2 separate regions of the Homo sapiens genome follow, and region 2 is linked to region 1. A link means that fine-mapping ties the variant in region 1 to the expression of a gene that starts in the linked region. Tissue or cell type: monocytes after LPS. Region 1 holds a variant in brackets; the other region holds the start of a gene. All regions are shown on one strand. Distances are from middle to middle.

Region 1 (8,180 bases):
AAGATAGATTCAAGGTGAGAGTCAGGAGTCGGGGAGAACAATTACAATACTGCTGGAAGAATCTATATGGAAGTTCTGATGGAATGGAAGACAGAGGTCAGAGATGTTATAAACAAGAGAAATAATTGCTAAATTTGGAGTCTGATCAGCTATTAGAGAGTGAGAATGAAGAAAAAGGAGGATTCAGAGATGCCTCTGAGGTTACCAATGTGGACAACAAACAGAATGATGGTGTCTTGCCAGAAACAGGAAAACTGGAAAAATAGCAAGAATCAGATAATTAGGCCCTTTGATTTGGCTATGGCCAAGGACCTCTCACCTATATAGGGAAAAAGGCAAGCGTGAAATCAATATACATAGCAATGATGAGAGCGAGTTGTTCACACAGACACGGTGGCTCATGCCTGTAATCCCAGTACTTTGAGAAGCTGAGGTGGGAAGATCATTTGAGCCCAGGAGGTTGAGGCTGCAGTGAGCAGAGATTGCACCACTGCACTCCTGCCTGGGTGACAGAATGAGACCCTGTCTCAACAAAACAAAACAAAACAAACAAAAAAAGAGTGAGTTGATGACAAATGTATCAGTGGGATTGAAAATGCAAAGTTCTTCCTCATCCAGCAGAAAGCATCCTAGAGAAAACTACAATTGATGCAGGAGAAGAAATGAGAACACTTGACAGGAGGAGGAAGATCGTCCCATGTTTGGAAAACCATTGGGGTAGATCTGGCAGTGGGACAGGGAACTGAACAGGGTTCTGTGCCTGTGGATCAAGTGACCATTTCCCCATTTTCCTCAACTCCCATCTACATCAAAGTGCATGGGACTCCTTTTCCTGACAGCCAACTTCTCCCACCCACTCCCTATCTAATAAAGGAAGGGATGATGGAAAGAAGCAGGCCTTCCTGATGGGTTTAGAAAATAATTGCATAGAACAAAGCTATATGTATGTTTTATTATGCATTTGCATTTACAGAAAATCAAAACTTTGAAAAGGCTTATATTCAAGAAGACATATGAAATCACCCAATTAAAAGATAGATGGCAAAGACTCAAAAACTGATTATAGAATTTAATTTAAGAAAAATCAAGAAATACATCAAAGGTATAAATCTGCATTTCCCTGGGGTCTCAATTCAGTGATTCAGCTTCTTTTTAGTAAGTGGGTCAGAAAACTGCTAATCCTGTAATGATTTTGTTCAACTGCACCCAGCTGGTAGATGTATTTCTTGCAGATCTAAAAAAAACAAGTATGTTAAAATTGTCAAAGTTAATGTCAACCCAATATCCAATTGCTTTGTTTATCAACCATGAAACTTGATTGAAAGTCTGTTCTTTTAATTGGCAAGTAGTAACAATGTTGTTTGTATTTTTGAGATGCTGTGTTCCGTGTTGCACATTTCTATGGTATAGCTGATACAATGACACCATATAATAGGGAGTCTCAGGCAGGGCGTGGTGGCTGACGCCTGTAATCCTAGGACTTTGGGAGGCCGAGGCGGGTGGATCACGAGGTCAGGAGTTCGACACCAGCCTGGCCAATATGGTGAAACCCTGTCTCTACTAAAAATACAAAAATCAGCTGAGTGTGGTGGCGCACGCCTGTAGTCCCTAGTCCCTGGTGCTTGGGAGACTGAGGAAGGAGAATCACTGGAACCCGGGAGGCAGAGGTTGCAGTGAGCTGAGATCGCGCCACTGCACTCCAGCCTGGGTGACAGAATAAACTCCGCCTCAAAAAAAAAAAAAAATAGGGAGTCTCATACTGGATGAAATTCAACAGGACAAACCGGTTACACTACAATATGAGGGCAAATATAGGAGCTGATGTATTGGCCTTGTGAAAACAGCTCAGGTTTGAAAACAAAAAACAAAAGGCATAAGTCATCATAGAGAAGCTTTTTTTTTTTTTTTTTTTTTTTTTTTTTCTGAGACGGAGTCTTGCTCTGTCGCCCAGACTGGAGTGCAGTGGCCTGATCTCAGCTCACTGCAACCTCTGCCTCCCAGGTTCAGTGATTCTCCTGCCTCAGCCTCCCGAGTAGCTGGGATTACAGGCGCGCACCACTATGTCCAGCTAATTTTTTTGTATTTTTGGTAGAGACGGGGTTTCACCATGTTGGCCAGGCTGGTTTCGAACTCCTGACCTCATGATCTGCCTGCCTCGAACTCCCAAAGTGCTGGAATTACAGGCGTGAGCCACCGCGCCTGGCCTTTTTTATTTTCCCCCTTCTTTCTTTCCCTTCCTTCCTTCTGGCCTTTTTTCCCCTTCCCTTCCCTCCCTCCCTCCCTCCCTCCCTCCCTCCCTCTCTCCCTCTCTCCCTCCCTCCCTCTCTCCCCTCCTCCCTTCCTTCATCTCTTTTTTTTTTTTTTTTTGAGACGGAGTCTCACTCTGTTGCCCAGGCTGGAGTGCAATGGCGTGATCTTGGCTCACTACAACCTCTGCCTCCTGGGTTCAAGCAGTTCTCCTGCCTCAGCCTCCTGAGTAGCTGGGATTACAGGTGCATGCCACCACGCCCGGCTAATGTTTTTGTGTTTTTAGTAGAGAGAGGGTTTCACCATGTTGATCAGGCTGGTCTCGAACTCCTGACCTCGTGATCTGCCTGCCTCGGCCTCCCAAAGTGCTGGGATTACAGGCATGAGCCACCGTGCCCAGCCCCTGTTTTTGTTTTTGAGATGAAGTCTCATTCTGTCACCCAGGCTGGAGTGCAGTGGCACAATCTCGACTCACTGAAGCCTCTGCCTCCCAGGTTCAAGCAATTCTCCTGCCTCAGTCTTCCCAGTAGCTGGGACTATAGGCATGTGCCACCATGCCCAGCTAATTTTTGTATTTTTGGCAGTGATGGTGTTTCACCATGTTGGCCAGGCTTGGTCTTGAACTCCTGAACTCAAGTGATCCACCTGCTCAGCCTCCCAAAGTGTTGGGATTACAGGCATGAGCCACCACACCTGGCCCCATCTTAACCATTTTTAGGTGTAGTTCATTAGTTAGGGATATTCATATTGTTGTGCTACCGTCACCAAAATTCATACACAGAACTCTTTTCATATTGCAAAACTGAAATTCTGGCCGGGCGCGGTGACTCACGCCTGTAATCCCAGCATTTTGGGAAGCTGAGGCGGTCGGATCATCTGAGGTCAGGAGTTCGTGACCAGCCTGGCCAACGTGGTGAAACCCTGTTTCTACTAAAAATACAAAAATTAGCCGGGCGTGGTGGTGTGTGCCTGTAGTCTCAGCTACTCGGGAGTCTGAGGCAGGAGAATCACCTGAACCTGGGAGGCGGAGGTTACAATGAGCTGAGATCGTTCCATTGCACTTCAGCCTGGGCAACAAGAGTGAAACTCCATCTCAAAAAAAAAAAAAAAAAAAAA[G/AG]AAACCTGAAATTCTGTCCCCATTAAACAGTAACTCCCCTTTTCCTTTTCCCTCCAGCCCTGACAACCACCATTCTACTTTCTGTCTCTAGGAATTTGAGTCTAGGTACTTCATATATAAGTGGAATTATACAGTATTTGCCCTTTTGTGACTGGCTTATTTCAATTAGCATAATGTCCTAGAGGTTCAACCATATTGCAGCATATGTCAGAATTTCCTTCCTTTTTAAGACTAAATAGTATTCCATTGTATGTGTATATCGTAGTTTATCAGTTTGTCTGTCATGAACACTTGGGTTGCTTCTACTTCTTTTTTTTTTTTTTTTGAGATGGAGTCTCACTCTGTCACCCAGGCTGGAGTGCAGTGGCGCAATATTGGCTCACTGCAAGCTCCACCTCATGGGTTCACGCCATTCTCCTGCCTCAGCCTCCCGAGTAGCTGGGACTACAGGCACCCACCACCATGCCTGGCTAATTTTTTTGTATTTTTAGTAGAGAGGGGGGTTTCACAGTGTTAGCCAGGATGGTCTCGATCTCCTGACCTCGTGATCCGCCCACCTTGAGCTCCTAAAGTGCTGGGATTACAGGCGTGAGCCACCCGCCCGGCCGCTTCTATGTTTTGACTAGTGTGAACAATACAGCTATGAACATGGGTGTTCAGATATCTCTTGAGTCCTGCTTTCTATTGGTTTTATACTCAGAAGTAGAATAGCCAGATCATATGGTCATTCTACTTTTTCTTTCTTTCTCTTTTGAGACAGGGTCTCACTCTGTCCCTCAGGCTGGACTGCAGTGATGCGATCATATCTCACTACAGCTTCTGCCTCCTGGACTTAAGTGATCCTCCCACCTCAGCCTCCCGAGTGGCTGGGACCACAGGCATGTGCTAGCAAATCAGATTTCATTTTTTTTTTTTTTGAGATGGAGTCTCACTCTGTTGCCCAGGCTGGAGTGCAGTGGCACAATCTTGGTTCACTGCAACCTCCACCTCCCGGGTTCAAGCAATTCTCCTGCCTCAGCCTCCCGAGTAGCTGGGATTACAGGTGCCCACCATCACACCCGGCTAATTTTTTTGTATTTTTATAGAGACGGGGTTTCACTATGTTGGCTAGGCTGGTCTCGAACTCCTGACCTCATGATCCGCCTTCCTCAGCCTCCCAAAGTGCTGGGATTACAAGCGTGAGCCACCACGTCTGGCCCCAAAATCAGATTTCTAAGACTTTCAGACCATGGCCAGGCACATAACAACTACTATATAAATGTTGAATCTTGTTATTGATGACAAATTCTCCAAGGTATTATTACCTTATGAAATCTCTTAATAGGCAAAGTCTGACCTCATAGAGCACATAGGCAAGCTTCTTTTCTGTTGAAATCTGCATAATTCTGTGTGTGTGTGTGTGTGTGTGTGTGTGTGTGTGTGTGTGTGTGTGTGTGGTGGGGGAATGACAGGGTCTCATCATGTAGCCCAGGGTGGCCTCAAACTCCTGGGCTCAAGCAGTCCTCCTACCTCAGGCTCCCAAGTAGCTGAGACTACAGGCACACCACTATGCCCAGCTTGCACAACTTTTTTTTTCTTCTTCTTTTAGACAGGGTCTCACTCTGTTGCCCAGGCTGAAGTGCAGTGGCACAAACGTGGCTCACTGCAGCCTCAACCTCCTGGACTCAAGCAGTTCTCCTGCCTTGGCCTCCCAAATTGCTGGGATTTATAGGCATAAGCCACTGCACCCGGCCCCAGCTTGCATAACTCTTATTCTCAAAGTATAAATAAAATTGTGAAGGATTCATCTGGGCATGGTGGCTCATGCCTGTAATCCCAACACTTTGGGAGGCCGAGGCAGGTGGATCACCTGAGGTTAGGAGTTCGAGACCAGCCTGGCCAACACAGCAAAACCCCATCTCTACTAAAAATACAAAAATTAGCTGGGTGTGTGGCGGGCACCTGTAGTCCAGCGACTTGGGAGGCTGAGGCAGGAGAATCGCTTGAACCTGGGAGGCAGAGGTTGCCGTGAGCCGAGATCATGTCACTGCACTCCAGCCTGGGTGACAGAGTGAGACTCCGTCTCAAAAAAAAAAAAACATTATGAAAGATTTATTTTGGTTGTCTTCTCACCTCTTCTTTTGGTGCCTCTTCCCCTGCTTCCAAGCACGCTACACCCTCCAGATTTTCTACTATGGTGAGACAAATCACCCCCAACCCCAGGTAGTACCCTAAGATCCGGGCTTCCCACAACCCAGTAAAGTTACTGTTTGAGAAATTTATGATGTCAGTAAAGACATTTATGATGTCAATATGAGAAATTTATTGATGTCAATGCAGTCATTACTGATAACGGCTGTGGATTACATATGCATATGTTTTAACCTTCCTAGAAATTTATTGTCAACATCCAAAGCAAAGCTCTTAAGTTGTAGAATTTAATTGACTGAGAGAGGCCAAAAGGGACAAAACTTTTAGGTCATACGAGGCCTGTTTGTTGTCACTTTGTCTGTTGTTTTCTCTATTGTCCCTTTTAAGAATTCTGGGCCAAGGCTGAGCACGGTGGCTCACGCCTGTAATCCCAGCACTTTGGGAGGCCAAGGAGGGCGGATCACCTGAGGTCAGGAGTTCAAGACCAGCCTGGCCAACATGGTGAAATCCCATCTCTACTAAAAATACAAAAATTAGCCAGGCTTGGTGGTGCATGCGTGTAATCCCAACTACTTGGGAGGCTGAGGCAGGAGAATCACTTGAACCCAGCAGGTAGAGGTTGTAGTGAGCTGAGATCTTGCCACTGCACTCCAGCCTGGGAGACAGAGGGAGACTCTGTCTCAAAAAAAAAAAAAAAAAAAAAAAAAAAAAGAAAAGAAAAAGAAATTATAGGCCAATGACAGAAAGAGAATTTTATGCCATTTTCAGGAGTTTGGATGAGACTGGGGAAATTCTGGGGCTAAATTAGGGGATCAGGCATGGGTGATAACCACTATATAAGATATTTCAGGGCTTGGGGGGCAGAAATAATAACATGAAATGAAGCTGATCAAAGCCTGGGACAGGCACTGACTGAATGAATGAAGCTGATCAAAGCCTGGGACAGGCACTGACTGTTTCTACTGGAGCAAAATCAGGCTTGGCCCAGGGGAACCGAAGCAGGGAGCTGGACTAGTCGCCATTTATTTTGTTACTAATTATGTGTTAATACATGACACCAAAACGAGCCAATGGTTCAGAGACTCACAAAATATGGATAAAATTGCTAAATGGAACTTACAAAGAAAATGTGAGTGAATAGGATTATCTAACCTGAGAGAAGTAATAACATACTCTGTTATTTTATAGAAGGTGGTGATCAATTACTCTTTTCTTTTTTTTTTTTTAGATGAAGTCTTGCTCTGTCGCCCAAACTGGAATGCAGTGGCCCAAGCTCGGCTCACTGCAACCTCCACCTCCTGGGTTCAAGCAATTTCCAGCTAATTTTTTGTATTTTTAGTAGAGACAGGGTTTCACCATGTTGGCCAGGCCGGTCTCGAACTCCTGACCTCAAGTGATCCACCTGCTTCAGCCTCCCAAAGTGCTAGGATTACAGGTGTGAGTCACTGTGCCCAGCCTCAATTACTCTTTAATTGCACTGAAGGATTTTATTAAATATCAAAGAACATTCTCTGAAATGCTGGTTGCCAGACACTAGAATTATTATTTATTTTATTTTATTTATTTTTGAGGCAGGGTCTCACTCTGTCATTCAGGCTGGAGTGCAGTGGCACAATCATGGTTCACCACAGCCTTGACCTCCCAGGCTCAGGTGATCCTCCCACTTCAGCCTCCTAAGAAGCTAGGACTACAGGTGCCCACCACCACGCCTGGCTAATTTTTGTATTTTTTGTAGAGACCAGGTTTCACCATGTTGCCCAGGCTGGTCTTGAACTACTGGGTTCAAGCGATCCACCTACCTTGGCATCCCAGAGTGCTGGGATTACAGGCATGAGCCACTAAGCCCAGTCCAGACACTAGAATTATTTACCGACTTTACAGGCTGTGGGCTGCTTTTAAAAATTGGGGTGGTAGGCTCGAATGTGGTTTAAATAGGATGGTTTGGGTGTGGTTCTGATGAACGTCCAGATTTGAATAAATGATACACAAATAAGCTTATCATTCTATTATAATTAACCATAAAAGCAGAATTTAATCTGTGATGACTTAAGCTTATCTGCTATATTGGTAATTTACGTCAACCTGTAGTAACAATATTTACAGAAAGTTCTTGCCTTTAATTTAACACTTAGGTTATTACGGTAACTGGGCTTCTTTGAGATGTCTAAAAATAAATCTGGATAGTTTGTTTCAGTGAGAGGAAGTTTTGAAAGTGAAAAGTGAAGGATACAATTTTATATCAAAGACAGCTGCAACTTCCATGTTAAAAATTACTTTTCTTTTTATACGAATGGAATTTGACTCAAAGGCTAAGATTAAGTCTGCAGGACTCAAGCTAGGTTGTGGAATCTCATTAGACTCTTGTGTAATACAGGTTCCAAATTTGGTGTGACCACAAACTGTTACTATAGGAAACCGACCTTTGACAATTTCCTAAGGAAGGAAGGAGCTTTTTGTTTGTTTGTTTGCTTGTTTGTTTGTTTTTGAGACAGGGTCTCACGCTGTCGCCCAGCCTGTAGTAGTACAGTGGTGAGATCACAGCTCACTGCAGCCTCAACCTCCCAGGCTCAAGCGATCATCCCACCTCAGCTTCCGAGTAGCTGGGGCTACAGGTGCGAGGGGAAGCTTTTCTATTTTGAAGCTACCTGGAGAAGAGTGAAGAGTACATTACTTGTATGGGCCCGGGC
Region 2 (8,180 bases), 150 kb before region 1:
GGGAAGAAGCTGACCCTGAGTTAGACCCCAAGTTTGGCCCACACCCCAAAAAGTGAACTCAAGAGAGGGTTCAACTAATTGTATCTGACATTCTGTCCAACTCTCACACTGTGTGTGTGGCTTCACTTTAATTCAACAGGTATCAAGCACCTACCAGGCACTGGGTCTCCAGAGGATACAGATAAAGAGATGGTCCCTGGAATCATGGAACTTACATTCACTTGATTTCTGGGGGCTACATCAGGGCAGGGCAAGGCCCACTGCCAAGTCTCTTGGTGTGGCATCAGGCTTGCAGGTGTGGGAGAAAGGGCCCGTTTCCACTTCCATCAGAGGGAGACACCAGGCATCATATCATATCCTCTCTTCCTTCCCTCTTGGACCAGTATGCTGAGTGGTCCCCATCTTGCTCCTAATTTAAAGTCCCTGTCGGTCAGTTTACCTGCCTTCTCTGAGTTCTGATTCACCACCCACTGCTTCCTTCCTGGATGATCACAGCACACGTTCCCTCCCTTGCTACCTAGCACTCAGCAGCTTTGAAGTCCATGTTGCTGTCTGAAATAATGGATTTCACAGGTCCCTCCAACCTCCACTGCACTGATCTTCATCCCTGACACTGCTACCCTTGAGGGCCTGAGGTCCCCCTCTCCTTTACCCACTTAGCCTTCTGGTTGGTGACACTTTACTTCCCAAAGCTCTTTGAAGCGCCCTTAGCTCATCTTCCCTCCAAATATTCACTCCTTATTATTTCCTGGCTGCTAATCCTCTGCTTCCACTATCCTGAAAAATACTTCATGAGCCCCACTGCTCTCACCACCAAGCATTGTTTCTCTTGTCATCCACTGCCAAACTTCCTGCCACCTCTGTGGCTCCACTGCCTGCTTCTGCAAACCTCAGCGTGCTCCCTGCTTTACTTTTCTCCTTGGACATACTTGGTGCCTGTATTCTCTATCAGAATATAAGCTCTATGAAAGCTGGGATTTTAAAATTTTACTTACTGCTGAATCCTCAGCTCGTAGATCAATGTCTGGCATAGTAGGCCCTCAAGTATTTGTTGAATGAGTGAATGACTTGTTCCCCACTAAACTGTAAACTCCGTGAGGACAGGAGCTTTGTTTTGTTCATGTTCTAGCCTCTGTGCCCACTACAGTGCCTAACACCTAGTAACTGTGCAAATTTTTTTTTTTTTTTTTTTTTGAGATGGAGTCTCGCTCTGTCACCCAGGCTGGAGTGCAATGATGCGATCTTGGCTCACTGCAACCTCCACCTCCCAGGTTCAAGTGATTCTCCTGCCTCAGCCTCCCGAGTAGCTGGGACTACGGGCGTGTGCCACCACACCCAGCTAATTCTTTTGTATTTTTAGTAGAGATGGGGTTTCACCATGTTAGCCAGGATGGTCTTGATCTTCTGACCTCATGATCCACCCGCCTCGGCCTCCCAAAGTGCTGGGATTACAGGCGTGAGCCACTGCACCCGGCCACTTAATATTTACTGAATTAAGGATGAATCCAGTTACCAGGTAAATTACGTGATTTTTTTTTTTGGAAGCTGCTTTGTCTAGTTTATAAGTTTGCTTATTGTCTTTTGCATCTGTCCCTGCTGTTACCTTACACCCAGGCTTCAGCAATAACCTTTAAAGCTCTGCAGCTGAAATCCATCCTGCACCCTGCCAGATTACTTCACTAAAATATTTTGAGATTGCCTCTTTGCTCAAAAACTTTCAATGCCTCCTCATCGTATTAATAGTTTCTAATGTGCAAACAGGTGGTGTTGCAAAAGTTCATCTGTAAGTTAGCTGTTCAGAGCAGTGGAACAAAGTTTCCCATTACTGGACACACTGATCCTTTAGGTCACACAAGTTTACATATGTATACAGTGAGAAGGAGAAAGAAAGCTTAACATAACTCATCACTGAACTGTAGTTTAAATAAATGTCTAACAATGTTTCCAGAAGAAAATGTGCTGATTCATTTTGAGATGCCAGGCACATACCCTGGCCTGCAGGGAATTCCCCTCCAAGCCAAATGATGATTCTCATAGACTGTGACAGGGACTGTCTAAATAGACACTCAAAGCTCTCCTATTCCAGTGCCATCATGACATCTTTATGATAAAATCTTCTCCCCATCATTCTAACTAAAAGCTATAGCTTTCCTCCTCTGAAGTCTAGACTGCATATCTGACAGCTTTTCTATCTACTGTATTGTCTTATACTTTCAATTTCCTCATGAGTATGTCTTAACTCTTGATGAGGCTGTGAACTGGTGAGAAAAGGCTCTGTTCCTTTTTTTTTTTTTTTTTTTTTAAGACGGAGTCTTGCTCTGTCGCCTAGGCTGGAGTGCAGTGGTGCAATCTCGGCAACCTCTGCCACCCGGGTTCAAGCGATTCTCCTGCCTTAGCCTCCCGAGTAGCTGGGATTACCGGCGCCTGCCATCGTGCCCGGCTAATTTTTTTTATTTTTAGTAGAGATGGGGTTTCACCATCTTGGCCAGGCTGGTCTTGAACTCCTGACCTCGTGATCCTCCCGCCTCAGCCTCCCAAAGTGCTGGGATTATGGGTGTGAGCCACAGCGCCCGGCCTAAGGCTCTCTTCTTATAACCTCTGCAATCCGTGGCACATAAACACTCATTAAATAGTTACCAAAGAAATGAAGGAATTTATGCCGATTGCTTTCCAGATGACACATGCAGGCAAAGTCAGGAATCTGGTTTTAATGGCCAATTTGGATTTATTTCCCAAAAATATCCTACAGCCTTATTATCAGGAAGCTGCCTTGAAAATGTGTGCTAGAGTCTACAGTAGGAAATGGCTCAAAGTATGAATCAGTGCAAAATGACCTTGAGTAACATTGGTTACAGTCTGTCACATGCCTACATGTGCCAGGTAATTTACAAACATAACTCTAAAACAACCATTCTGTGAGGAAACGGGGGCTTTGAGATAGTGTGATGTGACTTACCTAAGATCACAAAGCTTTTAAGGGATGGAGGCCAGGATTCCAAAGCTAGCATTGGAACGAAAGTCTTCCCGACACCAGCCCAGGTTGTGAAGATGAGCTAGGAGGACCTACTGCCTCGCTGGCTGGTTAGGGCTGGGCGTGCCTCCCTGGTGGAAGGAAGGTACATACCTTCCTTCTCCCCCTCTATTTCCTAAAACTGCTGAGTCAGAGGATGGCCCTAACCTTCCCGACCAAGGGGGACTTTCTATCGGGAGCACATGAGCAGCTCTTCTCCCTAGCCAGTACCTTCAGATTCCAAGCTCATGTTATTTCGATATCACCACACTGATTCTCAGCTCCCGGAAAAACAACTCAAGGCTTGAGTCAGACACTCCATGTGTTGTTCAATGATCCCGCCTGCAACAATGTTTATTATAACCAAAAAATATAAACAGCATGAATGTCTATTAATAGCGGAGTGGTTAAATAATAGTACATCCGATGGTTATCGGATGGAGTACCATACCACGCAGATGTTAAATGATAAAAGTGTACTGTTAAATAGAAAAAGCAAGGTATGTACATATATGTTTGTACAGGCAAAGGAAATTCACTGGGGGGCACTTATTCATTCAACAAATATGTGTTAAGCATTTTAAGGTTACCTGTGAAACTAACAGGGGTTACCTGTGAGGAGTGCTTCAGAAGGAAAAATAGTAACTTGTACTTTTCAGTAAACTTCTGCACATAATTTTAAGGACGAACATTGTTTTTTTTTTTTGAGACGGAGTTTCGCTCTTGTTGCCCAGAATGGAGTGCAATGGCGAGATCTCAGCTCACTGCAACCTCCGCCTCCCGGGTTCAAGCGATTCTCCCGCCTCAGCCTCCCGGCATTGCTTTTTATAAAGTCAAAAGAAAAGGAAGTTTGATAAAACAAGTAGAACTATCCGATAAATACTCGCCTGGAAAGGGACAGGATTATAAGAAACAGGTAATAAGGAGCTTAAAACCCTCTGCAGTTCTGCAGTGAGGATGGTCGTGGGGGCATACAACTTTCCGTTTCAGGTCAGTTTAGGTAGGGCAGGTGGGAACTCACTCTAAAACGAGAAACCGGGGCTGATGACAAAATGCACACGTTTAGCTTCTGGCGGCCCAGGTCTTCCTAGCCGCAGATTCTGAGACGTGTATCTGCAGGTGGTGTGAAATTGAAGCCGGGGGAGCGGTTGCTTTCGGTCTCCGAGGTGCGCCTTGCACACTGGGTCATTCAGCTCCCAGGCTCGGCTCGGAGCTGGACCACTCCCTCCCCTCCACCAAAGAGGCAATGTGGGCTCCAAGAGGTCACAGCGCTGGGATGGGATTTCGACCCCGCGCTGCCCTCAAAGGCCACCTCCTCGCAGCTCTGCTCCCGCCGGCAGCTCCCGTTCTGTCCAACTCGGAAGCCGCCCGCCGCCCTCGGCGTCCACTCCACAGGCCCGGGGCCGGGGCCAGCTCCGCGGGGGAGGGGTCGGTGCGGAAGGGGCGGGGTACCGGGCCTTCCCCGCGCGACTCTGCCTTCTACGGCCCCGGCCCCTGCCTCTGGAAACCCGGAGCTCGTGCGAGCCCCGCCCCACGGTCGCGGCGTGCCTGTCATTTCCTCTCCGCAGGGCGTGCGGGTCTCGAAGATGAGGGAGCAACAACGTCCACGACCGGGCTTCTCCGGCACCTTGGGCTTCTTTCCGCTGGGACTCGACAGCGGCTCGGCTCCGCAAGCTCTCAGCGCCCAGGGTGGCGGCGACGACGCTCCCCGAGGAGACGCGAGGAAGACGGGCCCGCGCTTGCTGGGACTCCGTCAGGGCGCGTGCGCGACCCGGGCGCGGCCGGCTCAGGCTGCGGCTGCGCAAGGCGGTGCCAGACGCTGCGCCTGCGCAGTGGTGGGGCGGGGCGGGAAGGAGGGAGGCGGTGGTAGCGGCGGCGGCTGCTGAGGAGGAGGAGGGGGAGCGGAGGGAGGTGTTTCTGTCAGTTCCGGCTGTTTGTTCGGGAAGTGGATCCGCCGCTGCCGGAGCAGCCCGAAGGGAGCTGCGGATCGCGAGGCCAGTACCGACCCCGCCCGCCCGCGCGCACCGCCCCCGCCCGCCATGGCCCGGGACTACGACCACCTCTTCAAGCTGCTCATCATCGGCGACAGCGGTGAGGGCCGCAGCGGCCGGAGGCGGCGCGGGCCCTGCCGGGCGCGGCCCGCGGGGGCCTCGGGGCGGCAGGCGGGCGGGGAGGTGCCGGCCCGTGCGGGGCGGGCGGGCGGGGCAGCCCGGCGGTCTGGGCCCCAGGGGTGCGCCGAGGGGCTCCGGACCGCGCCGAGGGGAGGTTGGGGCGCGGGGCGGAGGGGCCAAGCGCGCCGGGTCCAGTCATCGCGCCTGTTCCTGCCTCACGTGTGACCTTGGTCAAGTCGCGCGATCTCTGGAGTTGGAGAGACGTGGGTTCGAGTCTCAGGACTACCACCTGCCTCGCGCTGACCTTGGGCAAGTTGCTTCGCCGTCCTGAGCCTCAGTTCCCTCATCTGAGAAGTGGGGATGTGCCTTGCTGGGTGGTGTGAGGATTCGATGGGATAAAGTAGGAAAAGTGCGTAGCGCCCTACCCGGTAAAGTAAGCTCGAAGTAAATGTTCACTATTGTCATTATCATCAGTATCCTTTATAAGCGTCAGTTTCTTCCCATCTAAAATGAGGACGTTCTCAGAACCTGCCTCATGGGATTGCCGTGAGGTTTAAATGAGGTAAGTCGGATAAAGGGCTTTGCACAGGGTCTGGCATATTCCTGCTGAATTATTATATCCCTGCGTGGTTCAGTTTCCTCATCTGTAAGATGGAATGATAGTTGGATCTGCCTTATGGGGTTGATGTGAGTATTAAGTGAGATTCTGCAGTGTTGCTCACAGCTCCTGGCACATAGTGAGTTGTCACTGTTTGCTGTTACACTACTATATACAGAGGGGTCCTGGGGATGGGACAGCCAAAATTATAAAAGTGCTTTGGCCACACACACACACTGCTTGAGGGCTCCTAGCTCTGATCACTGCTCTAGCTCCAGTGCCTAGAACAGTGCCTGGCACCCAGTACATGCTTAAGACATATTTGCAGAAGGAATTAATGAATATTAAGTGTCCTTCGAAAAGGTAGACTGGTTTCTGGGAAAAGGTGGAGGGTTTTAGAGCTGTTTGGAGTGTGGCAGGTGAGCAGGTTTATGGAGTGACCAAGAGGTCAGGAAGGCAGGCCCCAGAAGGTTTATGGGAGCGAAACTGAGGTGCTGGGGTTATATGATGTTCATGAAAGAGTCTTGGGAGCATGCTCAGTTTGTAGACCAGACCTGAGCTGAGTGTGGGGAGGGATGTCTTATGATTGGAGGCAGAGGCCAGGCTGGTGGTAGAGCCCATGGACTGTTAAGGAAAGGGGATCAAATCAAGTGAGCGGTATGACTTGGGATGTAGGAGTGTTGGGTAGCGATGTCAGAGCTAGGTCAGGGAAGTGGGTGGTTTTGGCCTCCCTTTTAAAGCTGGATGGAGATGTGGTTGGTGGTTTGGATCAGGTGAAGGATGGCTGAGGTTTCCGTGGTTGCTGGAGGAGGGGAGAGGTAAGGGGGAAAGCTGGGGGCTAACCAGGGAGATGGAAGAGTAACTGAGGTTGGGGAAGGAGGTAGAAAGGTGGAGTACTGACTGGTTATGGTTTGAATGAAGGGAAACCAGGCAAGCTCTGGAGTGTTCTCTTGGAGATGGCCTTTGGTATTCTTCAGGGTCTTGAGGCTTCTTCCTTTACATGATTTCCTTGCAGCCCTGGCCTGGGTTCTGAGGGACTGGCACTGGGGCCATTTCTCTCTTTTTGGAGTGACAGCCCGCCGTGGTCAGGAGCCTTTATCCCTCTGCAAGACATCTGGACCTCTGCGTTGATATCCAACAGTGAAAAGCCTAAACTCAGCAGGAAGATGCAGCTTGTTGGCTCTTCTCCTCTGTAAAGCCCAGGGGATGGGTTTGGCCCGCTTTCTCACAGTACATTTTGTGTGATGAATTGATTTTTCTCTCCGAAGTCAGGTGTGGGAGAAGACTCATTGGGTCGAGATTTATGTGGTCTAGCTCCTAGGTCAGCCATGTAGGCGTAGGTTGTGCAGAGGAGATGGATGCTGTGCTCTTTGATTTCTCCCGACATTGAGATCCTCAAAGCTGGGAGATGGTAGCCATGGAAGTCCAGACTAAGCTTTGGCAGCTGAGCCCAGAGACTGACATTACACACTCCCCTGAACTGGGCTCCTTGTGTGAATGCCTCCTTAAGATATGTTGAACGATTTCACAGACGCTTATTCTCACCCGCCCCCTGTGTGATTTGTCAAATAAGGAAACTAAGGCTTAAGGCCGGGCGCGGTGGCTCACGCCTGTAATCCCATCACTTTGGGAGGCCAAGGCGGGCAGATCACCTGAAGACAGGAGTTTGAGACCAACTTGGGCAACATGATGAAACCTCGTCTCTACTAAAAATACAAAAGTAGCCGGGCATGGTGGAATGTGCCTGTAATCCCAGCTACTTGGGAGACTGAGGCAGGAGAATCGCTTGAACCTGGTAGGCGGAAGTTGCAGTGAACCAAGATCGCACTATTGCACTCCAGCCTGGGCGACAAGAATGAAACTCCGTCTTAAAAAAAAGGAAACTGAGGCTCAGAGGAGGTGACTTACTTGCCCCAAATCACATAGCTCAGCAGGGGCAAAGCCGGGAGCCACTGCATCTCAGTGCTAATACGTGTGCGAGCAGCTCATGTCAGGGCTGGCAAACAATAGGCCCTCCATGAATGCTGGTTTCTTTCTTCATAAATCTAGAGTTCTGCCCACTCTGCACATTGTGGATGCTTCTGCAATGGATTCCCTCAATCTCTGCATCCCTTCGTTATGCCGGAGGTTCTATATTTTCTTTTTTTCCTTTTTTTTTTTTTTGAGACGGAGTCTCGCTCTGTCGCCCAGGCTGGAGTGCAGTGGCGCGATCTCGGCTCACTGCCGGCTCCACCTCCCCGGTTCACGCCATTCTCCTGCCTCAGCCTCCCGAGTAGGTGGGACTACAGGTGCCCACCACCATGCCCGGCTAATCTTTTGTATTTTTAGTAGAGACAGGGTTTCACCATTTTAGCCAGTATGGTCTCTATCTCCTGACCTCGTGATCCGCCCGCCTCGGCCTCCCAAAGTGCTGGGATTACAGGCGTGAGCCACCGCGCCCGGCCAGTTCTGTATTTTCTAT

Alleles and levels. Alleles are on the strand shown, and positions count from the first base shown. SD is a standard deviation of normalised expression in the study named.
For the expression in monocytes after LPS of the gene that starts at base 4,947 in region 2, allele AG in region 1 goes with a higher level than allele G (moderate effect, 0.44 SD a copy in Quach 2016).

The links. PIP is the estimated chance that this variant, and not a neighbour inherited with it, causes the effect.
Region 2: RAB35 starts here. The variant in region 1 is fine-mapped to the expression of RAB35 in monocytes after LPS (Quach 2016, PIP 0.91).

What each region holds. Positions count from the first base shown.
Region 1 is chr12:119,968,072-119,976,251 of GRCh38, reverse strand. LOC112268087 (a long non-coding RNA gene) reads right to left here. Exons shown (of 4, transcript XR_002957391.2): 4 at 1,055-1,234. Among named protein-coding and RNA genes, the nearest start is that of BICDL1, 17 kb to the left of the region's middle. The variant G/AG (reference allele first, on the strand shown) is at 3,364.
Region 2 is chr12:120,113,520-120,121,699 of GRCh38, reverse strand. It overlaps RAB35 (RAB35, member RAS oncogene family), which reads left to right and starts at 4,947. Exons shown (of 6, transcript NM_006861.7): 1 at 4,947-5,101. The coding sequence starts at 5,050. RAB35-AS1 (RAB35 antisense RNA 1) reads right to left here and starts at 4,793. Exons shown (of 1, transcript NR_182302.1): 1 at 2,697-4,793. RefSeq lists enhancers at 1,704-1,763, 2,879-2,928, 2,969-3,038, 3,069-3,168, 2,588-3,379 and 2 more and silencers at 3,881-4,059, 4,047-4,106, 4,197-4,546, 4,707-5,016, 5,117-5,246.